Homo sapiens: one gene and its partners. The protein of the gene in region 3 purifies or fractionates together with the protein of the main gene of each other region. This does not show direct contact. Each region holds a gene or a part of one and is shown on either strand. Other genes may lie near its edges.

Region 1 (3,500 bases), on a different chromosome or scaffold from region 3:
TAATCCTAGCACTTTGGGAGACCAAGGCTGGAGGATCGCTTGACCAAAGGAGTTCGAGACCAGCCTGGGCAACACATTGAGACCCCGTCTCTATGAGTTAAAAAAAAAAAAAAAAAAAAGTCAACAGTAGTTATCACGTGGATGGTGAGTTGTTTGGGGACTCTGTTTTGTTTCATTTTGTGTTTATGTATATTTCTGTGGTTTCTGTAATGACCTCTTGTTTAAAAAACCAGATTGATGAGCTGCTTGTAATTTCAGTGATACTAAAAATTGTTTCTGCTTTTATTTTTCAGATTAACAAAATATATTGTGTTACTATGTTTCACTAAATTTTTGAAGGCTGTGGGACTTTTCGAATCATATGATCTCCTAAAAGCTGTTCACATTGTTCAGTTCATTTTTATATTAAAACTTGGGTGAGTGTGGGGGGGGGTTTTTTCTTGATATTTTTTATTTCTTTGAAAATCCTGTTTTAACAGAGTATCTTTAAGAAACTTTACATACAATATTTTGTTTGTTCCTCCTGACAAGTATTTGATAAACTTTTTTAACTGGGAGTATACTTAAGATTAGAGGTACAAAGAGACTGAAAAGAAAACGGATTGTTGTGCTCTAATCACTTGCCTAAACACAAACTTTGATGAGATTTTTGCAAATTTAGTTTTTGGGCTATTTATTATTATTATTATTCACTGCATAATCCTTTCTTAGTACAGAGTCCTCATGTAGTGTGAACATTAATTTATTCTACTTATACGAAATGCTTTTTTTTTTTCTTTTTTGAGACACAGTCTCACTCTGTCACCAGGCTGGAGTGCAGTGGCGTGATCTTGGCTCACTGCAAGATCACTGCCTCCTATGTTCAAGCGATTCTCCTGCCTCAGCCTCCCGAGTAGCTGGGACTACAGGCGCTCACCACCATGCCCAGCTAATTTTTGTATTTTTAATAGAGACAGGGTTTCACCATGTTGGCCAGGATGGTCTCAATCTCTTGACCTTGTGATCTGCCCGCCTCAGCCTCCCAAAGTGCTGGGATTACAGGCATGAGCCACCACGCCTGGCCTACATATAAGAAATTCTAAATAAAGATTTCTTGGACCTTGAGATTGATAGTGACCACCCTCTGTGTTAATAAAAACCTGTTAAAGACTCTTGGGAGTCAGCTGGGCACGGTGGCTCATGCCTGTAATCCCAGCACTTTGGGAGGCGGAGGCAGGTGGATCGCCTGAGGTCAGGAGTTGGAGACCAGCCTGGCCAACATGTCGAAAGCCTGTCTCTACTAAAGATACAAAAATTAGCCAAGCGTGGTGGCATGTGCCTGTAATCCCAGCTACAAGGGGTGCTGAGGCAGGAGGATTGCTTGAACCTGGGAGGCAGCGGTTGCAGTGAGCTGAGATCATGCCACTGCACTCCAGCCTGGGCAACAGAGCGAGACTCCATTTAAAAAAAAAAACAAAAACAACACTCTTCGAAGTATAATTTTGGTAAGTTGGGAAAGAGATTATTGACTAGGAAATATTAAGCACCAGTGACGTGCTTTTTTTTTTTTTTTTTTTTTTTGAGACAGTCTGGCTAGGTTGCGCAGGCTGGAGTGCAGTGGCTCAATCTCAACTCACTGCAGCCTCTGCCTCCAGGGTTCAAGCAATTCTGTCTCAGCCTCCTGAGTAGCTAGGATTACAGGTGTGTCCCACCATGGCCAGCTAATTTTTGTATTTTTTTTAGTAGACACGGGGTTTTGCCATGTTGGCCAGGCTGGTCTCCAACTCCTGACCTCAGGTGATCCGCCCACCTCGGCCACCCAAAGTGCTGGGATTACAAGCTTGAGCCACTGTGCCTGGCCAAGTTGTGTGCATTTTTATATAACTATTTTGGCAATGTGAAAGGTAGGGATATATAATTAGTAATTTCTTCATTTTCATTATACTATTTCAAGATTTATTACTGAATTTTAGAGAAAATAGGAATTCTCTTCTTTGATATTTTAAGATATAAAAAAAATTGTGACTCCTTTATTTTTGTGGCTTGTTAGCTGGTTCTGAAGACAGTTAGAAAATAAGAGTTCTCGGCCAGGTGTGATAGCTCATGCCTGTTTTCCCAGCAGTTTGGGAGGCCGAGGCAGGCGGATCACCTGAAGTCAGGAGTTCGAGACCAGCCTGGCCAACGTGTTGAAACACCATCTCTACTAAAAATACGAAAAATTGGCTGGGCGTGGTGGCGCACACCTGTAATCCCTGCTACTCAGGAGGCTGAGGCAGGAGAATTGCTTGAACCCGGGAGGCAGAGGTTGCAGTGAGCCAAGATCGTGCCACTGCACTCCAGCCTGGTGACAGAGCAAGACTCCATCTCAAAAAAAAAAAAAAAAAAGTTATCAAAATATTGCAATAGGAGTTTTACTAAAATAAGTATAATTAATTCTCCAGTATGATTTATTCAGAGGATAACACTTCAAGTTCTGGCATATTTGTTTAAAATAAGTGTCTTTACTTAAAACTGTATCTTGTGTTTAATATGGATTAATATTAATATATTAATGTTTCAATATTTACAGGACTGCATTTTTTATGGTTTTGTTTCAAAAGCCATTTTCTTCTGGGAAAACTATTACCAAACACCAGGTAAGATTTTTGCAGAATCTTTTATTCCTAGCAGCTTCTCGTTTAGTGGGCCAGGAGGCAATGCTTATTTTTTATAATGGGTACTTAATGAATGATTTAAGTATGCCACAGAACAATTTTAGAGTTAACTTGCTCTTGTCTTTTCAGAATGGAGACTTTAAATCATAAAGTACTAAGATCATGGAATGTTTTTAAAAAAAACAAGAGGGTAAAAAAAATTATAAAGCATTCATGTAATTGTTTTCTTCAGTACACACTTCTTATTCTGAAAGATTTACAAATTGGACATGAAAGCATGCCCAAGAGCCTAGTACAAATGTCACTGGAAAGCTGACAAAGCATAGGGGTTAAGAGTGTGATTTCTGGAGTCAGACAAAGTCATGTTCTGTCTGTCCTCCTTACTGACCCTTACTTTGGGCAAGTTACTTGATTTCTCTCTACCTTAATTTGCTCACTGTAAAATGGAGATAACAGTAACTTCCTAACAGAACTGTGAGGAAAAATGAATTAATACTTATGAAGTTCTTAGAATGATGCCTCATCATCATTGTGACAATGTGACACCCTCATGATCATTGTCACTGTTCTCTTTAGGCAGCTGTGATTCAAACTAGAAATGTCCTACATTTTGCATAATCATCTCACATCGTCACTTCTTTGGGCAGCAGTTATACCATAGTACATGTTTGCTTTATGCCATGACTTACAAACCTGCGTCATAATTTTTTTATTAGAAAGACGAATTTAAGTACTTCTGTTTCAGAGACCAAGAACATTTTTTAAAATATGATTAATAGTCTAAACCCCATTTTAACTTTTTTCTCTCCTTTCAGATAATTGGATCACTAAAAATTCCTGGTAGAAAAGAATTTAAAGACAAAAAGT
Region 2 (3,500 bases), on a different chromosome or scaffold from region 3:
TGGGCAACAAGAGCGAAACTCCGTCTCAAAAAAAAAAAAAAAAAATTTAAAAGCCAAGAAGGGGAGATTGTACATTTTGGCTTGCAGAAGGCTCTGCAATACCACTTTTTGGTTTCAGAGAAGTGATTCCTAATTTGGGTTTCAAGAGATCTCTGAATTTTTCTTTTGGTCCAATGGACTATTTAAAGGAATTATCTTAAATTCATTTTTTTTGGAAAATGTATCAGAAGTGTCTGAAGAGGGTATTCAGAGGGAAGTCAGACTCATCCTGGTCTTTCTCCTTTGAGGTCTCCTCCTCAGGAACCACCATTGCTAGTTACTTCTGTTATGTTACAGATAATGTTTCTGCATATGTATATGGGGGGGTGTGTTTGTGTATATATTTACATACACACAGCTCTTTTAAAATGCAAATTAGGATTTTCAAAAATCATTTAATTTAATTGAAAAAATGGTCACCATTTCATTTTGAGAAGGTGATGGGGTGATGTACTAATACCAATGCCTTTAATTCCTTGAAGGTTAGGTATCACTGCAGAGGAAAGGCTTAATGGTCGATGGGCCTACAGTCAGGGAGAAAAAAGCCAGCCTCCCGCCCCCATACCTTGTACTCCTGGCTATGTGTCCTTCCTGTGGGGAGGAGAGGTGGCTGCCCTGCCCTGTGAAGTGTGCTCTAGACTTGAGCCCCCTTCAAGCCAGTCTCAGCACTCCTTTCGGTGGATCTTGAGAAGAGTTAGTGCCCTGGGTGCAGAGCACTCACCGAGAACTCAGGCTGCCATTTCCTCAGAGAACTGCGCTGCTGAGATCCAAGATGAGGCCCCCGTAGGCCCCTGGCCTGCACCCCCTTTGGTTCTTTGCCTATTTCTTATGTCTGATTTAGGAAAAGGAAAGAAAATACATTTCACAGTGTGTCCAGGCCCACTAAGAAAGTTGTTTGAAAAGATTTTTAATCGTATCTTAGTTCAGTTTTTCCTCCAGCTATAAAAATTACATTAGTCATTGAAAATTTGGATAAAATAGACAAATTTGAAGAAATAAAATTACCTTTAAAGCCGCCCAAAGACCTGTATTATACTTTTAGCCGTATAGTCTTTAAGCTCTTTTTCTTTTTTTTTGGAGATGGAGTTTCACTCTTGTTGTCCAGGCTGGAGTGCAATGGCACGATCTCGGCACACTGCAACCTCTGCCTCCCAGGTTCAAGCGATTCTCCTGCCTCAGCCTCCTGAGTAGCTGGGATTACAGGCATGCGCCACCATGCCTGACTAATTTGTATTTTTAGTAGAGATGGGGTTTCTCCATATTGGTCAGGCTGGTCTCGAACTGCCGACTTCAGGTGATCCGCCTGTCTTGGCCTCCCAAGGTGCTGGGATTACAGGCGTGAGCCACTATGCCCGGCCTAAGCTCTTTTTCTAAGACACGTGTGTGCACGCATGCATGCACACACACACACACTTTAAACACAATTGGAATGTCTCATGTCTGGTTTGGGATTGTACATATAATACAATCCTAAGGTTATATTTTGCGTATTAATTTAACCCTAGTTTTTTTCTCTTGTGGTTAAATATTCTGTGAAAATACATTTAAGAAGTACATAATTTATTTTTCTGTTGTTGGACATGTATCTTGTTTTAATATTTTTACCACTGTCATGAGCTGATATTTATTTAACAGTATTTTAGAAAATATTATGTGTAATGCATAGAATATAGTAATTGTGAATAGTTTATGTGTTAGAAAGCTAATATTATTTTTATGGGTTTAAGTTGAGTTTTAGTAATTTATACTTTTATCTCCATCTTAAAATACTTTACAAATACTTGGACTCTGCAGAAAGGCTAAATCTTTTTTTGCTTCTGGAAGTTAGGTATATCAGAAAGAAACCATAGGAGGAATTCAGTAAGTTGTTCTTGCAACTTTACTGGTGACTAGATGCAGCTATTAGAATGAATACATCTGTAAAATGAAGTCAGCGTTTCACTTCTGTTCCCTTCTGTCTCATTTGGGGACTGTGGCACAGAAGCTGTGATGTGCTGTAACGTGAAACCTGAGTGTCTTTACCGGATGATCCAGCGGTGGGCGTTGTCCACTCTGACGGTCAGCATCCTGCTCATCCCCTGTAGAACAAGCTGGATGTGTGTCCAAGCCTGTGGCTCCTGTGGCAGGTCTGTGCCCACAGGAAGGCTGATGAGGGAGCTTTGGGCCCATCATTGCTGTGGGCATGTGGACACTTGACACTGGCCCTGCCATTGATCGGCCCAGGTCGTGGTCACCCTCCTTTCCTGGCCCCTCACAGACATGCCTTCACTGGCTTAGGGAGGCAGTGGAATGAGAGGCTCCCAGCCCCCAAAACCAGTGCTGTGTGCTCGACACACGCAGTTTCATCTGAACTGTATCATTGGCCCCAGCAGGGTATTGTTTGCCTCATACGATGGACAAACGCGCTGAGGCTGAAGCATGTGAAACTTGCAAATGTGGAGCTGGGATTTGAGTCCAGGTTGTTAGAATCTAAGCCCTGTGTATTAACCAAATTGCTGACTTTTAAACGTAAGTAGATTTATAGTTGGCTTAACAATTTATAAATAAAACTTTTTCCTTTTTGTTAGGGAAAGAACCTATTGGGTTTAGTGTTCTTACAGACAGCATTTCTTTTTGGAAATGAACTATCTTATGTGGTTTTTCTTTTCATATTCCTAATGAAATCATTTTGGTTGCTTTTGGAGAGTGTCAGGTTATTGGAATAATCTGGAATTTTGAATATTAATGGAATTGCATATGCAGTCCTTTTGAAAGACCTTCTGTACTGAGCTTGCAGAGGGTGGGGATTCTGTCAATGCTTGTCAGTGCCGTGAGGGGCAGACAGGGAGGCTGAGGCAGGAAACCTCGTGAGTCCAGGCTGCTCTCCACCACGAAATCACTAACACAGCTGTTCTGCCTCCTCTTCTTCCCTAGGCAGAAGGTTATGTAATTGGAAGCTGCATCAAACACATCCCGATTGCAGGTAGAGATATTACGTATTTCATTCAACAGCTGCTAAGGGAGAGGGAGGTGGGAATCCCTCCTGAGCAGTCACTGGAGACCGCAAAAGCCATTAAGGTAAAAACAGATGGGAAACCGGCTGGTTTGGGGGTGAGAGAGATGGTGTTCTGGACACTTCCCCTTGGTGCCATCATCCCTGCCCCTCCTTTCCATCCTCTCCCCTTCCCATGAGTGTGGGGCTTGATTTGTTTTACCCCTTAAGTGGGCTGAAGATGTAAAGCTTAACCTCTTCCAAACTAGATGCTCTGAGGTTCCAGCTGTCACTGAGAACAGCTTGGTAGCTGGTACAGCGTACCAGCGTGCAGAGGCAGCATTGTTCAGCTGGAGCCTCACTGCTGGAGCCTCATCTACCAGAGCGCTCCTTCCATACTGCCTCCATGCTTCGCTGTAGAATCAGGAGGCGACCACAGCAGCAGAACACTGCCAACCTAGGATCCAGAGCTATTGCACAAAATTCACAC
Region 3 (3,500 bases):
TAAAGATGCAATATTAAGTATGAAGGTAAAATACCACAGTGTAGGCAGCAGATGTAATCACTGAGCCTTCAGGTCCAGTCACCATTTGTACTTTCATATAACTGCTTGGAAAATCTCAACCTTTTTGGGCTTACAAATATAATGCCATCAGTTAGAAGTCATCTTCTCCACAATGTCCTTTCATGAAGTGATGTAATAGGATATGCTGTGGGTAGCATAACAAAGTCTTGATTGTCCTCATCTCTTTTTCTTCTCCCCATAGTCCCTCTTTATCACTATGCCACCTCTCCACTCTCATATACTCCTCCCAAAGATGGAAAGCAGTTTCCTGGGGGAGTAAAGTTTTAAATAGAATGTTATGAGTATTTACATTCAATGAAAAGCTGTAAGCATGTTTAATGTGAAATTTTAAGTTCTAAGGAAGGAGCATAGGGTAAGGTTCTTTTTGGAAGGAGTATCTTTTCAGTATCTTCAGAATAATGCCACCTATAACCTATTCCTAACTATGTCTTCTACTACAGCTAAGTAGATGTATCAACTTATTCAATTGGTATATTGTGAGCATTATCATTTTTTTAAATTAGTGTGTATATCAGGGGAGCCTCTGGGGAAATGTAAAGAAATGTGACTGATGTTAATTTTTACTCCTGATTCCTTGAATGACAATTGTAGGGAGAAATGTGTTCTAGTCAGTTTAAACATTAAGTACCTAGGGAAAATGATCAATTTTCTGCTTCTCATATCTGCATTCAAAGATATCATATGTTTCATCTGGTATGCTTCTGTCATATCTGTTGTTGTCTCCATATGGAAAATAGGAAAACATCAGTCTAGCTATGCTTCTTGCTTCTTGTGTGCCATTAGCAAGTTATTGAACTATCCAAGTCAATTTTTTTATAATTACAAATTAAAGATCGATAATGACTGCATTATAGAAATAGTATCAGGATATAATGTACGTATACCCTCTATAAAGACATATAAAGGGACACAGGCATATACATATTTTTCTTGACACATAGACACTAATTAATGTCAATTTTTATCCCTTAATTTTCATGACTGAACTTTTTGTGATGTGGTGTATAGCCAGCTTCTGCCTTCATGGGCCAGTCTGTATCTCTGTAGCTCTTTATGGCCTCTGCCCCAGCCTTTTCCTTAATTGCATATTTTCCTAAAAGGTGTGAATAAAATGGTGTTGGCACACATTACTCTCCTTTTCCACACTAGCTCCACCCACCCATCTCCTTCATACTGATTGCTTAACATTGCCTTCTTGCCTTTAAATGAAAGCCATTCCTAACTATTGGAATAGTTTGCTTTCTCTCTCAACTTAAATTTGCCTGTGCTGGGTCCCATTCATTTAGAGTTTTTGAGTTGTTAATAGGTTGTTGATAGGCAGGTCTATCACTACTAGTGTTTTAAATAACACACACATTGGTAATATGTTGATTTAACTCATACATTGTTAAAATACATTGTGAAGTATTCATAGTTAAAATAAATTATCCATTAAGTAATTTACCTAATAACAGTTTACCCAAGTTAGGTGTGTGGAATGGGGAAATATTTGTAATAAGTTTGCTTCCTACAGAGTTAGTCTTGTGTCAGATATGTAAGTGGTAGAATTGCAAGTTCATGTTACTCCTAAGCCTAGAGACATTTATTTTCTGCTTCTCCGAATGCCCATTTTAGTTTCATGGGTGTTTGTAAACCCATCCTTACCTACACAGGAAGCAAAAAGGGGTTATTTCTAAACCCTTTTTAGATATAGAAATAATACATCACTCATCTCGGCCAAGACTCAATAGAATCATGAATAGTGACTGTAAAAGGTAATATTAACTATTAGGCTTTAAACCTATTGTGCATTTTAGTTTTAAAATGCAAACATGCTAATCTGAATAAGAATTAATCTGATGCCTCTACATTTTTGCTAAAATCATAACTGTTTAGTCTTACTTAGTAAAATAAATTATATCTTTGACTTAAAATCCCAATGATAACTTTTAAGATGGCTATTTCATAGATAACAGCAACATTTATCATGGACAGACAATAATGAGAATAACATGTGCAACTGATAATTTAAATGCAATGAGTTATTTCTGTATTTGAAAAAATATATTTGGGAAATGGGATAATTAAAAAATACCAGTTTTCAAGAGACCAAATCTAAAACTCAAACATAAACACAATGCTCCAGTTTTTAGAAAACTGTCTTGATTGTAGTAGTGCCTACATACTAAATTGTATCATATGATTTATATTAATTTTCCTTATTTTGTATTTTAGATTATATTTGAAAATTTTCATGTACTGCAGCTATGTTAGCATCTCAAAGTCTCCATATTCTCACTCCGCTCCGAAACATCCACTGCTGATGTTATTTAACTAGTGAAAGAAGATCCTTCCATGTTTCTTCTTATAGCATTCTGACATCTTCTCCACCCTAAGGAATGCTGGCTTTATTAAGTATGTTTCAGTCAATGACATGTGATTGGTGAAGCTGACGGTATTTGTCTTCAGTTCCTTTTTTCCCTGCAAAGGAAATTTGTTGAATATTTATTGGGTACTATATGCCAGGTACTATATGTCAGGCTCCACTTACATATACTCTATTGATGCCTTACAACAAACTTATAATGAGAAGATTAATAGGTTTTACAAATAAGAAAAATGAATTCAAAGAGCAATGCTAACTTACTCAAAAGTTTAGTCAGGCAGTAAATAGCAGCACTAGGTTTCAAATATGGATTTAACAAATTCCATGGTCCATGCTTATTCCATTACTTCATCCTGCCTCTTTCCTTAGCTTCTAACCCTGACTGGAGATGCATAGGCAAAAAGAGGAAGGAAGAGATACTTAGATGTGCCCTCTAGACAATTTACAGAGTTGTTTGGGCATGTTGCCATGCTGTTTTTCTGATAGACTACAGTTCTTCAGCTCTGAGGATGAGCTCATTTGATAAGCCAATCAAGGTCGGGCTAGGGTTACTTTACAAGAGAAAATTTCAAGGTAAAATAGGTGCTGCCAAAAATGCTTTTACCTGTTCAGGGGGTTGACTCACTGGAAAAAAAATGTTAGATAATTGTGGCCAAGGATTATTTTGTTATTGAAAGTGCTATTTTTAGACACAATTTGAGCCTGAGAGCCTAAACACTTAACACTTCACATAATCTACAGATATTTGTTTATTTTTCTTTTTGTCATGCATTGCCAAATAAATAGTATTTATTTAAACAAATCATGTTGCTATTGATTTTATTAAATAGATGAACTTTTTTTAATTTTTTTTTTTTGAGATGGAGTCTTGCTCTGTCACCCAGACTGGGGTGCAGTGGCACAATCTCGTCTCACTGCTGCCTCCACCTCCTGGCTTCAAGCTATTTTCCTGCCTCAGCCTCCCCAGTAGCTGGGATTACAGGCACATGCCACCATGCCCAGCTATTTTTTTTTTTTTTTGTATTTTTAGTAGAGATGGGTTTCACCATCTTGG
Region 4 (3,500 bases), on a different chromosome or scaffold from region 3:
CCTCCCAAAGTGGTGGGATTACAGGTGTGAGCCACTGCGCCCGTCCTGTTATAACCCACTTTCTCTGTAAAGTAATGCTTCCTGTATTTGTTAGCTGTTAGAGTTCAAAACAGTATAAATCATTATAAATTAATCTGTTCATGCTTAGCACTGAAAAGTATGTATACAGAAATACCATTAAAGTAGCATTGACTGTATGTGCCACAGAACAGTGTATTTCAGATATATATTTTACATTGTAGTAATATTAACATGGAGATCCAATGGATACATTACATATAAGTAACAAATATATTATTTTTAAATGTTTTATGAAATAATACCATTAGAATGTAATACATTCTAATATTTTATTGTTTCACATAATAAATATTGTTTTGACACTCCCCCAGTTGATTTCATATACCAGTCAGTTGCCAAGTACAGTTTGAAAAATGCTTGCCTAAAATGAACATGAGTTGGGAGATGTAATTCAGTTGTTTAAGGCAAACCAAATATCAAATAAGACCCTCTTTATTATATAGTCTACAGTACTGTGTGTATTATGCATTGGTCTTCAGATTGTATTTATATAACCATACATACTGTACTTTTAATAGGTTATTTAAAGCACTTTTAAGAGTAATTTTGCTTATGTGTAATTTATGTTGACTTTGGAATTAACTTTTGTTTATACTGCAATTCCACCATATTTCTTTCATGGCTCTGTTATTTCTTGACAAAACATTAACAGAAAAAAATAATGAAATATCTTTTTTACAGGTTAATTACCATGCTCAGCATTACCATCTCACTCCATTTACAGTCATCAATATTATGTACAGTTTCAACAAAACTCAGGTGAGAATTTTGTCTGGATTCTATTAAAGGTTTATATAAGTGTCATTTGGGTTTAGTAATCATTAAAGCAAGAATAATTACTTTCAGTTTGGTCAATAAAACATCTTAACTGTTGTAGTAAAACTAAAGTAGCACAACGATATGTTTTTGAATCTTTCAAAATGTAATTTAGCAAAAGTACAATTTAATTTAGCAAAACCACAAAGAGCTGTGCTAAGATGATGTCTCTGCTATCAAGAGGCTCATATTTATTCATGGAGACAAAATCTTTGAAGATTGTGCTGCAGTAAGATAAAGGCAATATTAGAAGTACAGAATGCTGTCAGAATACAAAAGAGAAGTACCTTATCAAAACTGGGCTTGGGCACAGTGTATGGCTGGGAAAAACTTTGGGAAAAGAAAGGCCCGAATTGTGTGCTTCTTGTTGAGAAGTCTGACTCTTCATGATGAGGATAGAGAAAAGGTTTTTAAAGTAGACGTGTGAAGGCAGAAGACAAAGAGAGATCATAATGTTTGGGAATGGATTTAATGGAGTACAATGGGAGCTTGAAGTGGGGGTTGAAGAGTAAGAGAAAGATGAAAAAGTAGCCAGAGAAGTAAGCAGGATCCAGATTCTAAAGCACCTTCTAAGAACTGCACACTACTAGATCTTAAAAGCTACAAGAGTACTGTTGAAGGTGTTTTAGCCATGACCAAAATATCTTGAAGACCTTTGGATTGTTTGGCAATATCTATTAAAATTTAAAATGTACATGTTCTTTCACTTCCAGGAACTTATCCCACATAGATGTGCACATATATATGCAAAAATATATATACAAGGATGTCCTATGACATTGCATATAATAGACTGGAAATGATTAAATGTCCATCACTAGGGTACCAGTGAAATAATTATGGTATATTATGGTGAAACACCTTGTAACCTTTAAAAATAAGAGGGTAGCTCTGTGTATACTAATGTGGAATGATCTCCAGGATATTTTTTATGTTTCAAGATAATACTACCTGTTAAAAATAAGCAAAACAAAAATATTTCTATAACATACACACACAGATATACTTGTATATGCATGGATTATCCCGATAAATTTTAAAACTGCTGCTGAGGACTGGGATGAAAAGGAGACAGACTTTTCAGCTGATACCCTATTGCTTCTTTTTAATTCTATCATGTATATCTATTAATAATATAGATAATATAGATAAATAATAGGAGTATTACTGATGGTATCATGCAAAGGGGCAAAACCAGAGACAGTGAAACTTGTAGTCAAATTGATATAAAGTAATAGTGTTAAGTATGGAGAAGAGCATGGATTTGTAAGATACTAAGGGAGTAGAATTTGTAGAACCTGGGGACTGATTAGATAGGAAGAGTGAGATAAAAATGTTTTCTAGATATATTGTTTGGACACTAGGATGATGAAGCTGCTATCTAGGGAAATAGGAAATACAGCAGAGAAGGAAAGAATTGGTGTGGTATGAGTGAGTATGATTGGGTTAAGTTGTGGATATGTAAGTTTCAAGTTACCTTGTGTCATCCACAGGACAGGACTAGTAGGGAGTTGAATATATAGATATTAGGGATATTTAATAAATTAGTTAATCATTAGGGGTTTTAATTAATAGGAATGTTCTTCTTGGCCTAAGTATAACTTTAAAATGATATAAAATTAATTGTAGTTCTCTACTAATATTTCTATTAGAATAATGTTTTATTGGAAAATGTCTACACAATATCAAGTTTTATTAAGATCTTTTGTGTTTCAGATGTAGGTATTAACAGAAATAACATGAATTTTGTTCAATTTAGGGACCTAGAGCCCTGTGGAAAGGAATGGGAAGTACATTTATTGTCCAGGGAGTCACACTTGGAGCAGAAGGCATAATTAGTGAATTTACACCTTTGCCAAGGTACCATTTTTAGCATTTCTTCAGTATTAGTTTCATGTGGTGATGTGTTTTTAGATGCAGGCGGTACATGTGCAGGCTTGTTACATGGGTATATTGTGTGATGCTAAAGTTTGGACTTCTAATGATCCTCTCATCCAACAATTCTCAATTGTGTAAACATCATACCCAATAGGTAGCTTTCAACCCTTGTCCCCATCCCTCCCCTATTATATTGTTTTAATAATAAATAAAAAATACCTTGAATCTGAAAACTTGTCTGAAGTAACTAAAAGAAAAAACAAAGAATAAAATTAATTATATATTATTAAATTAGTATGTGATAAAGAAAATGTGTCTTGGCTTAGTATCTATTGAGATGTATCTTTCAGCTTCTACTGCTATGTGCCAGCAACTGCCAGCTGAGGAACAAATGTGGGTATGTGAGCAATTCCCGCTCTTTAAGTATTCATTTAATGAAGGAGACACATGTAAGCAAGAAGAGGTAACATGTCCAATGTCACGGGGTTGGACAGTCTAGGTAATAAAAGAAGTGTCTTATGTTTGGAATATTGGGTATGTATGAAATTGAATATCAGGAAAAGAAGCTGAGGTGCTACATTAAAATACGATTGTGCCTTTTTAAGTTTATTCTCTATGGGTTTGGAATGTGTTTCTTTTTTTAATATATAGATGTTCTGATCAAGATATATTCAAATGGCAGTATAAAATAAATGGAGTTGTATAGACAGATTTATGGAGATCTA
Region 5 (2,896 bases), on a different chromosome or scaffold from region 3:
GGTGTCTACTGAGTGCCCAGCATTAGGGTCCTCCTCGGGAGGCTGCAAGAAAAATCCTGGGAGGGGATCAGTGGCACTGTTACCAGGCAACCGGCCTAGGTATTATTCCACCCTCTCTCCCCACCTCCCCCAGGCTGATTTTAGCCACGTGAGAGGTTTCTTAGCACCCATTACAGGTGGCATGTTTCCCTGCTGCCCTGCTGCTTGCAGTGGACCTGGGGGAAGTGGAGGGGACAGGTCAGGGCCTAGACTCTCCTCCATTTACTATCCCTTGGGTGGGTCTGTGCCAAGTATGTCAGGAAGCAGGGAGCTCACCCTTGACCTTAGCTGGCCACCAGGATGCCCCACTCCCAGGTCACTCACCGCAGTGTGGTAATTTGGCACTGGTCATGCAGCAACAGGTCTCGGAGGTCCTTGCAGGCCTCAGGGCCCAGGCTGTTGAGTTGCAAGCTGGAGCAGAAGGTGGCCAGAGGGGAGGTGAGAGACCAGGGAGGGAATTCAGCAGGCAGTCTGTCCATCTACCATGCCTTTTTTTCATCAGCCTGCCTCTGGGAATCTATACCTGCTTCCCCTTTTTTGAGAGACAGGGTCTCACTCTGTTGCCCAGGTTGGAGCACAATGGCATGATCACAACTCACTGCAGCCTCAGACTCCTGGGCTCAAGCAATCCTCCCACCTCAGCCTCCCGAGTAGCTGGGATGATAGCTACATGCCACCACACCTGACTAATTTTTTAATTTTTTGTAGAGACAGGGTCTTGCTATGTTGCCCAGGATGGTCTCAGACTATTAGGCTCAAGTGATGCTTCTGCCTTGGCCTCCCAAAGCAGTGGGATTACAGGCAGGAGCCACCATGCCTGGCTCCTCCCTTCTGTTGCTCCTGTCACCTCCACCCAAACTAGACTTTTTTTTTTTTTTTTGAGACGGAGTTTTGCTGTTGTTGCCCAGGCTGGAGTGCGATGGCATGATCTCAGCTCACCGCAACCTCCGCCTCCCAGGTTCAAGCAATTCTCCTGCCTCAGCCTCCCAAGTAGCTGGGATTACAGGCATGCACCACCATGCCTGGCTAATTTTGTATTTTTAGTAGAGACAGGGTTTCTCCATGTTGAGGCTGGTCTCGAACTCCTGACCTCAGGTGATACGCCCGCCTTGGGCTCCCAAAGTGCTGGGATTACAGGTGTGAGCCACTGCTCCCGGCCCCTAAACTAGACTTCTTCATCCCACCTTCTGGTCACTCATCGGTACCTCTGGTTTCCCTGGCACTTTCTTTTCCCACTTCTTCACCTCCAACCCTCTTCCCTCTTCATGCCTGTGCATGAGGATAGGTCCTCACCCCAGCTTCCGGGCACGCAGGAAGACAGGCAGGAGTGTGCGCAGCCCAGCAGGATCTAGCTGGCAGGAGGCCAAGTTCACCTCATCCAGGGCATGCCTTCCGCTGCCCAGCACAGCTGCCACCACTGTGCACTTGACTGGTGTCATGCGCACACCTGCCAGGTTGAGCTGACGCAGGGAGCTGAGCACCTCAGCGGAGAAGCGCTGGTTCTGGAACTCATAGTGGAAGAAGAGGTGGTCAAGGAGCTCTGATGGGGGCAGCACCTGCCGGCCCAGCTTGCCCAGCTTCTTCTTGATGGCCTGGGCATTCTCCAGGGCATCCAGGTTCTTGATGGGGCAGCCAAGCTGAGCTAGCACAGCTCGGTTGTGGGCAGAGAGAAGCCCCCCCATGAACATGGGGAAGAGCTCGAAGACTTCATCCTCAGGGGGCTCATCTGGGTGGCGCCGGGGGCCCTCCACGCCCAGGATACTGGCGCCCATCTGGTCCAGAACATCATCGTTGTAGTAGTCCTCCTCTCGAAACATCTCCAGCACCATGGCCTGAGCCACCGCCTCCCGGCTTTTACCCACCATGCGCCCAAACACTCGTGGAACCACCTGAAAAAGAAGCAGGGGAGAGTCACTGTGGCCTTCCATGTGCCTGTTCAGCCTTCAAGGTTCAGCTTAAGGTACACTCCCATGACTGCTCCAGCCCTGTGATCTCCCCTTGAACTTAGCATAATTTGTCTGATCATGCTACTCCCCTGCTGCGACACCTTCCATGGCTCCCTACTGCCTATGTGGCAAACTCCAAACATTTAGCCTGGAATATGAAACGTTTCTTAAAACTAGAGATGGGGTCTTGCTGTGTCACCTAAGCTGGTCTTGAACTTCTGGGCTCCCTAGCTTAGGCCCCCCAAAGTGCTAGGATTATAGGCATAAGCCACTGCACCTGGCCCAAAACTTTTCATAATTTGGCCCTAATTTGACCTTTCCAGGGTCATCTCTCAACACCTGTCTCATGTGCTGCAGACATTAGGAACTTCTTTCTCTTTCCCAAACACCCTGATACATTTTCAAACCCAGGAGGTGGTGAGAAGGAATTAGCATGTATTACACACTTAGTTTGGGACCGGGCTAGGTATCACAAATACATCACCATCTTCAACATGCAGTTCCTACTGCTTTAAGGGCCTGTGTGATCTGGGCCCTGCCGACTACGATGCCTTCATCACAAGCCTCTTGGCCCCACTCGCTATGCTCCTGCCCTTTCGGCTTTTTTCATCTTAACAGTGCCAAGGTTTTTCCTCCTTCAAAGCCTCCATAGGCCAGGTGCAGTGGCTCATGCCCGTAATCCCAGCACTTAGGGAGGCCGAGGTGGGAGGATCACTTGAGCCCAGGAGTTCTAGACCAGCCTGGGCAATGTAGCAAGATGCCATCTCTATTAAAAAAATTTTCTTAATTAAAAATAAATTAGCCAGGCATGGTGGCATGTGCCTGTAGTCCCTTGAGCACTGGAGGTCAGGGATGCAGTGAGCTGAGATCACACCACTGAACTCCAGCCTGGGCAACAGAGCAAGACCCTG
Region 6 (3,500 bases), on a different chromosome or scaffold from region 3:
CAAACCCTGCCAGGGCCAGGATGCCAGGCATCACCCTGTCAACCTGCCCCTCTCCTCACTCCTCTAGCCGGCATAACAGCCTCTGATGGTACTGCCTCCAAAATATACATCAAATCGCCTTTTTGGCCCAGGCCCACTGCCTCCACCTTGGTACAAGCAATCTTACCCCATTCCCAGGATGACCCCCCACAGCCTCCCAGTTGGGCCCCTGTGTACACCCTCAACTCTTCACTGTCCATTCCCCAACTCAGCAGCCATGGTACAATATAAACTGGGTCACATCGCTTCCCACATAAGACTCTCCAAAGGCTCCTGTCACCTCTAGAAAAAACTCCAAGCTCCCAACTCATGGCCTACAAGGACCTCTGTGATCTGCCTGGCCAGCCCTTTCGACTTCACCTTCCACCCCTCTCCACCCCACCTACCCTCAGCCACGTGGCCTCCACGCTGTTTTGCTCACATGCTAAGCTCATTTCTGCTCAGCTTCCCTCTGCTGGGACCTCACTCAGCTGGCTCCTTTTACCATTTCAGCACGGGCCTCCCATCTCCTCCCCAGGCGCTCTCATGTCAGCTTGGTTCATTTTCTTAGTCGCTGCTTTACTTGTTCAGTGCCTGTCATTCTCTTTCAGCAGAATGAAAGCTCCATGGGGGTTATCTGCCCTGCTCACTGCCATACCCCCAGTTAGCCCAAGGCACCCACAGTGGGTGCTCCATACACACATGGCCGATACACAAATCCACAGGCCCACCTGGTTCCGGAAGGTCAAGGCCACCACGCCACCAATGAGCTCCATGATGAGGCAGATCCCAAGGATGTACATGAACTGGAAAACAGAATTCAGAGACTCACCTGGAGAGGAGCAGTGGGCGTGTGTGGGGTACAGGGGAGGCACCATCTGCTCCAAGAGCAAGCACAAAGAGAAGCATCCCTCGGGGAGCTCCTACCAGCTCCTAGGCCTCTGCCCCCTCCTCCTGTGAGAACGTGGACGTGGACAGGCAGGCCCCAGGAAAACCTGTCTCTGGAGCCGGAGGGCAGGAAGAGTGACTCAGCTGTCCCAGCCAAATGGTTACCTCCATTTGTCTTGGGGGTCTATGTGGAAGAGCACGCCCTTCCCCCACCACCATAAGGAGAGCTGGGCCTCGTTGCCACTGAGCCAGAGGGGCTAGGCCTGGCTTAATGGGCAGGCTGGGGCAGTATGTCCAGCTCCCCACAGAGAGCCCTCAGATGTGACTTCCCAGATCCCCCACAGTGGGTGAGGGGGATGGCTGAAGCTTAGAGGATATGCACCCCCACCTCTGCCCTTTACTAGAGAGCAGGCATTACCCAAACTGATTTCAGCAAATTCCAGCCTCAAGTAGCACCCAAACCCGGTTTACAGTGGATCGTAGGGGCTTCCCATATGAGGGGAGACAATGAGGTCAAGAGACACACAAGTGCAGAGTGAATGGATCTGCCTACTCACTACCCCCAGCTTTAGGGAGTCATCCCTCACCCCACAATAATGGGATACAGGTAGGATTGACTCCCCATGCCCCATCCCAGAATGGGCACATGGCCCAAGCCAGGCCCACCAGAGTCCTGGGACTTTGGCCAGAGCTGGTAGGAAAGATTTCCTGAGATCTAGAACCATAAGGACTTTGTTGGCCTGACGCCGGCAGTGACCACTGCAAAGGGAGCAGCCCCGGCTGGCAGGGGCTGGGGAGATTGCCCAACCCTGCCCAGTGGCGCCATCTAAACCCCTGGACCCAGTGTGGGTTTGCTGGTTGCATGAGCTAATGACTCACTACCATCTCCTTTTTTTGTCTTTGCTTGCTCTCATTTGAGTGTGGTTTTTCCTACTCGCAACTGAGCATCCAGATGAACACAGAGTTTAAGTAAGAACAGTATTCAAATCAGCTTTTACATGCAGGAGGGGAGGTGGCCTGGGCATTCTTGGGCCAGTGTGGTCAGATGGGCTGATCTAAGGAGCTCTCTAAAGGAGGTGGTTTGAGGCAGGGACAAAAGAAACTGAGCTGCCCAAGGGCACAGGGGCAGGCGCCCCAGCTCTCCTGGGGAGTCCCGGCTGAGGGGTGGTGTGGTCCACTCACTGCTTGGAGAAGGTACAGGTTGTCACGGAGGGACGCCAGCACACCAATGAAGGAGACCATGAACATGACGACGCCCAGGAGGATGAGGATGATGGCTGGAGCCAGGAAGGCACTTTCAAGGGTTTTATATTTCTGCCGCTCAACCTCTGCATAGATGCCCACAGACAGGACCAGGGCCCCAATCAGCTGCAGCAAGAAAACAGAGGGTGAGAGAGAGACTGAGGTCACTTGATTTTCTACAGCAAAGAGTCATCTGGGGCTGTGGTACCTGCTGTGGGGGAGGCTTGCCCCAGGTTACAGCACAGAAAGGGCCCTGTTAGCGGCTGAACTGTGTTTCCCCAAATTTTCTCTATTGAAATCCTAACCCCCAGTACCTCGAAATGTGACTATATTTGGAGACAGGGCCCTTAAAGAACTAATTAAAGTTAAAATGAGGTCACTAAGGTGGCCCTAATCCAATATGACTGGTGTCCTTATAAGGGGAAGAGATTATGACACAGACACTCACAGAGGGAAGACTGTGTGAACACGCAGGGAGAAGGCAGCGTCTACAAGCCAGAGACAAGCCTCGGAAGAAATCAACCCTGCAGGCCGGGCGCGGTGGCTCACACCTGTAATCCCAGCACTTTGGGAGGCCGAGGCGGGCAGATCACGAGGCCAGGAGATCGAGACCATCATGGCTAACACTGTGAAACCCTGTCTCTACTAAAAATACAAAAAAGCAGCCGGGCATAGTGGCGGGCACCTGTAGTCCCAGCTATTCGGGAGGCTGAGGCAGGAGAATGGCGTGAACCCAGGAGGTGGAGCTTGCAGTGAGCCGAGATTGTGCCACTGCACTCCAGCCTGGGCAACAGAGCGAGACTCGGTCTCAAAAAACAAAAAACAACAACAACAACAACAAAAAAAAAAAATCAACCCTGCCACCTTGATCTTGGACTTCTAACCTCCAGAACTGTGAGAAAATAAATGTCTATTGTTTAAGCCATTCAGTCTGGTACTTGATGTTATGGCAGCCCTAGCAGACTACTACAGACCCAATCTGGAGATGCCACTTTAGAGGAGAGTATAGATGGGTTAGGGGAAATGCCACTGGCTGGAGGGTCAGAGAACATGGGTTCGAGCCCCAGCTCTGCTACTTGCTAACCCTGGGCCTTGGACAGGCATTTGACCATGTGAGTCTGTGTTCTCATCTGAAAGACAGACTTGAAGACATTCATTTCTGCACTGCTCACACCACGGCTTTCGCGAGTGAATGAATGTGGAAACACTACAAACCTGGAAGTGCGAGGCCGCCACAACGCGTATTAAACAGGCAGGTCACCCCGTGCTCAGGGCAACAGACATTTCACACAGTACCATAACACGGAATTTACTTTCAGGATGACCACAGAGAAGGCCAAAGGTTGGAGCAG
Region 7 (3,500 bases), on a different chromosome or scaffold from region 3:
CATTGAGAAAAAAATTTCTATGATATAATTCAGGTAGGTTGAGGTGTTTTTTGTTTGTTTTCTTTTTTTGTTTGTTTCTTTTGAGATAGGATCTCTCTTTGTTGCTTAGGCTAGAGTGCAGTGGAACAAACACTTCTCACTGCAGACTTGACCACCTGGGCCTTAAATGATCCTCACTCCTCAAGCCTTCCAAGTAGTGGGACTGCAGGCACATGTCATCATGCCCAGCTAATTGTTTTTTCATTTTTTGTAGAGACGGGGTCTCACTATGCTGCCCAGGCTGGCCTCAAACTCCTAGGTTCAAGCAATCCTCCTATTTCAGCCTCCCAAAGTGGTGGGATTACAGGCATGAGCTACAATGCCTGACCTGAGATTTCTTAAGAACGTAACTATCACTGAACAGACTTCATCTCTTTTATAGTGCTAAAGCACGTACTATTTTTGTGTGCATCTCTTTGGTTGCATGTCTGTTTCCCCACCCAAGTGTCTTGAGAGCAGAGATCATCCCTTTTTGTCTTTAACCTCCCAGTGACTAGCATAGTGCCTGCTGCATTCTTGATACTCAGTTATTTAAAGAATAGCATCTTGATAACTATATTAGTAATATTTTCAAAGACCCATCTCTGGGTCCCAAGTAGATCTCATTGTTGGATTGCTAATGGTTCTTGTGTCACATTTTCAGGATCAGTAATTGTTTTATAGAATTGATCTGAGACTTGATAATGAATCCACGAAAACTGTATTGAATGTGCTTGTGGCACAGTTTTTTCTTTTTCACTTAACATTTAAATTAGGATATGTTGTAGAGGGCAGTAAAGAATAGATTTATGCTTATTTTTGGATACTACACAAAATGAATATTCCTTAGTATTAGAATTGTTTAGTGTACAGTGACATACATTTCCAAATGATTATTATATTGAGATACTGAACTCTTGAACACACACGTGGTTTATTCAGCATATAAAATGTTTTCATTTATAGATATTTTAAACTGCATTATAACTTATAGACATTTTTAATTGTTTAGATATTTCAAGTTTGTGTACATAAGTTGCTTACTCAATTGACTAAACCATTATGTGTTAAAACTTCTTTTTCTGCAGAGATGCAATTGAGAACAACATGGATTTTATGGGATTAATTATAATGCAGAACAAATTAAAGCAAGAAACCCCTGCAGTACTTGAAGATTTGCATAAAGCCAACATTCGCACCGTCATGGTCACAGGTTAGACTTTATAAAAGAACACAGAAGCAAATGGAGTGTGACAGAGCTGAAGTTATATTATATTGAGGGATAATCAGTTATAAAATCATATTATATAGTCTATAGTGGTTTCAACCTAAGTTCTCTTTTAGCTCTGAATATTTTCCCAAGCGCAAGATAACTTTGTCATATTCTTTTTGAGGTCTAGCGAATCCTATTTATAGAAAGTGTAGTAGAATAGTAAAAGTACGGCCGGGCGCGGTGGCTCACGCCTGTAATCCCAGCACTTTGGGAGGCCGAGGCGGGTGGATCATGAGGTCAGGAGATTGAGACCATCCTGGCTAACAAGGTGAAACCCCGTCTCTACTAAAAATACAAAAAATTAGCCGGGAGCGGTGGCGGGTGCCTGTAGTCCCAGCTACTCGGGAGGCTGAGGCAGGAGAATGGCGTGAACCCGGGAAGCGGAGCTTGCAGTGAGCCGAGATTGCGCCACTGCAGTCCGCAGTCCGGCCTGGGCGACAGAGCGAGACTCCGTCTCAAAAAAAAAAAAAAAAAAAAAAGAATAGTAAAAGTACACTGTAAAAATTTAAACTTGACTCCTTTTTGTTTTCTCTCTTTATTCGTATATTTCTTATAGCACTTATTGTACCTTGTGTTATTTGTAGATTTGTTTTCTGTACTAGAATATAAGATTCTTGAGGGTTAGGAGTATATTTTACTCATGTTGGGGTCCTTTGCAACTTTTAGAACTGTCAGCTACATAGAAAATGATTAATAGATATTCGATAGCATGAAATGTTTATATGTAAGATATTGTTTATTACCCTAGCTTGAATTCTAGTGAAATAGCCTACTTTTTTTTTTCTAGTACATCTAAGGGATTCTCCTGATGTTACTATACTGTTGATAATATTAGATAACTCTTACTCATTAGCTGTGTGAAATTGTGGTAGCTCTGTTTTTTGTTTTTTTTTCTTAGCAGATAATCAGATTTAAGATACTTAATGGCACTTACGTGTTCAGTAAGACTAATATGGAGAAAGTCTGTATACATTTTTGTGTTTTAGACTCTTGAGATCTATCTAATAACATAATTTTACCGTATAACTCAAGGTAACTAAGTCTGTTAGCATTCCAGCCATTCTTAGTTCTTGCGTCTTCTTTGTCAAGACACTTTTCACCTGTTCCTCGTCCTCCTCTTTTATTTATTTATTTATTTTCCCCTTGCCAGAATATGGCTTTGTGTACCAAAGGTCATAGGAAGATATTCTTGGAAATAGTGTGTGGAAATTGAGGAAAGAAATATCTCGCTCTTCTGTTTTGGTAGCAGTGGGATCCACAAACCTTTGTCTGCTTCTCCTTAATAAGATCCTGTTCTTGCTGCTCTTCTTTCTTCTCATGACTGAGAAGTTGTCTCTCTTGTTTCTCGTTTACACCTGTTCTTATTACCTGTCTTACCTTTTTGTTTTGTATGATCTTGCTTTTGTAATTCATCATTTTCTATGATATGGTGCTGGTGTTCTTGCACAGACCACTAGTCACTTTGTAAAGTTATTTCGGTAAGTATTTATTGAGCCACCTGATCTGTGTGTAGCACCGTGCCAGGTATTGTGTAGATACAAATAGTGCATGACTGGAAAAGATTGAGAATTATATTTGGCTTTAAAAATTGTGGGTGAGATGTTTTCTTTAGCATATAACGTGCTTGCGTTATTTGAGGCTTCTTTTGATAAGTATGCTCCAATTTTGTTATTTTTAAACTGTAAGTGGAAGAACCATACATTATCGTTACTCTGCCAGCCCAGTCATGGAGACTGTAGTAGATTCTCAGCAAGTACATGTTTGATACGTTCACGTTTCCATTTTAATTTCAATACATTTAAAATATTTTGAAAATTAGGTGACAGTATGTTGACTGCTGTCTCTGTGGCCAGAGATTGTGGAATGATTCTACCTCAGGATAAAGTGATTATTGCTGAAGCATTACCTCCAAAGGATGGGAAAGTTGCCAAAATAAATTGGCATTATGCAGACTCCCTCACGCAGTGCAGTCATCCATCAGCAATTGACCCAGAGGTAAGGTCAAGATCGACTGTCCGTTTTAAAGTTTGTTGATTTAAATTTAGTCTGAAAAAATAAAAAAAGTGGTGCATTAAAACACAGTAAAGCAAAAACTAAATGAAAACAGAAGTCAGGGCTATTTTTTCAGAGATTATGTTTCATTAGGACTGGGACAGACCCAGGAATCTCAATGTTCAAATTTTGATATTTAGCTAAGATGAGAAGCATA

What was found.
Region 1: the proteins of HCRTR2 (region 3) and SLC30A5 purify together in Homo sapiens (affinity purification with mass spectrometry; one large-scale study listed by BioGRID and IntAct). This does not show direct contact.
Region 2: the proteins of HCRTR2 (region 3) and ACTR3C purify together in Homo sapiens (affinity purification with mass spectrometry; one large-scale study listed by BioGRID and IntAct). This does not show direct contact.
Region 4: the proteins of HCRTR2 (region 3) and SLC25A46 purify together in Homo sapiens (affinity purification with mass spectrometry; one large-scale study listed by BioGRID and IntAct). This does not show direct contact.
Region 5: the proteins of HCRTR2 (region 3) and NLRX1 purify together in Homo sapiens (affinity purification with mass spectrometry; one large-scale study listed by BioGRID and IntAct). This does not show direct contact.
Region 6: the proteins of HCRTR2 (region 3) and TSPAN15 purify together in Homo sapiens (affinity purification with mass spectrometry; one large-scale study listed by BioGRID and IntAct). This does not show direct contact.
Region 7: the proteins of HCRTR2 (region 3) and ATP13A3 purify together in Homo sapiens (affinity purification with mass spectrometry; one large-scale study listed by BioGRID and IntAct). This does not show direct contact.

The regions. Positions count from the first base shown.
Region 1 is NC_000005.10:69,100,514-69,104,013, forward strand, and holds part of SLC30A5 (proton-coupled zinc antiporter SLC30A5), read left to right. Parts: intron 1-293; coding exon 294-416; intron 417-2,548; coding exon 2,549-2,615; intron 2,616-3,448; coding exon of another isoform or gene 3,449-3,500. UniProt on the Homo sapiens protein: Together with SLC30A6 forms a functional proton-coupled zinc ion antiporter mediating zinc entry into the lumen of organelles along the secretory pathway.
Region 2 is NC_000007.14:150,289,046-150,292,545, reverse strand, and holds part of ACTR3C (actin-related protein 3C isoform a precursor), read left to right. Parts: intron 1-2,952; coding exon 2,953-3,096; intron 3,097-3,500. UniProt on the Homo sapiens protein: May play a role in the suppression of metastatic potential in lung adenoma carcinoma cells.
Region 3 is NC_000006.12:55,177,515-55,181,014, forward strand, and holds part of HCRTR2 (orexin receptor type 2), read left to right. Parts: intron 1-3,500. UniProt on the Homo sapiens protein: Nonselective, high-affinity receptor for both orexin-A and orexin-B neuropeptides. Triggers an increase in cytoplasmic Ca(2+) levels in response to orexin-A binding.
Region 4 is NC_000005.10:110,745,507-110,749,006, forward strand, and holds part of SLC25A46 (mitochondrial outer membrane protein SLC25A46), read left to right. Parts: intron 1-762; coding exon 763-840; intron 841-2,656; coding exon 2,657-2,757; intron 2,758-3,500. UniProt on the Homo sapiens protein: Transmembrane protein of the mitochondrial outer membrane that controls mitochondrial organization.
Region 5 is NC_000011.10:119,178,725-119,181,620, reverse strand, and holds part of NLRX1 (NLR family member X1 isoform 1 precursor), read right to left. Parts: intron 1,929-2,896; coding exon 1,333-1,928; intron 451-1,332; coding exon 364-450; intron 1-363.
Region 6 is NC_000010.11:69,482,465-69,485,964, reverse strand, and holds part of TSPAN15 (tetraspanin-15), read right to left. Parts: intron 2,275-3,500; coding exon 2,089-2,274; intron 825-2,088; coding exon 750-824; intron 1-749. UniProt on the Homo sapiens protein: Part of TspanC8 subgroup, composed of 6 members that interact with the transmembrane metalloprotease ADAM10.
Region 7 is NC_000003.12:194,431,503-194,435,002, reverse strand, and holds part of ATP13A3 (polyamine-transporting ATPase 13A3), read left to right. Parts: intron 1-1,106; coding exon 1,107-1,231; intron 1,232-3,110; coding exon 3,111-3,286; intron 3,287-3,500. UniProt on the Homo sapiens protein: ATP-driven pump involved in endocytosis-dependent polyamine transport. Uses ATP as an energy source to transfer polyamine precursor putrescine from the endosomal compartment to the cytosol.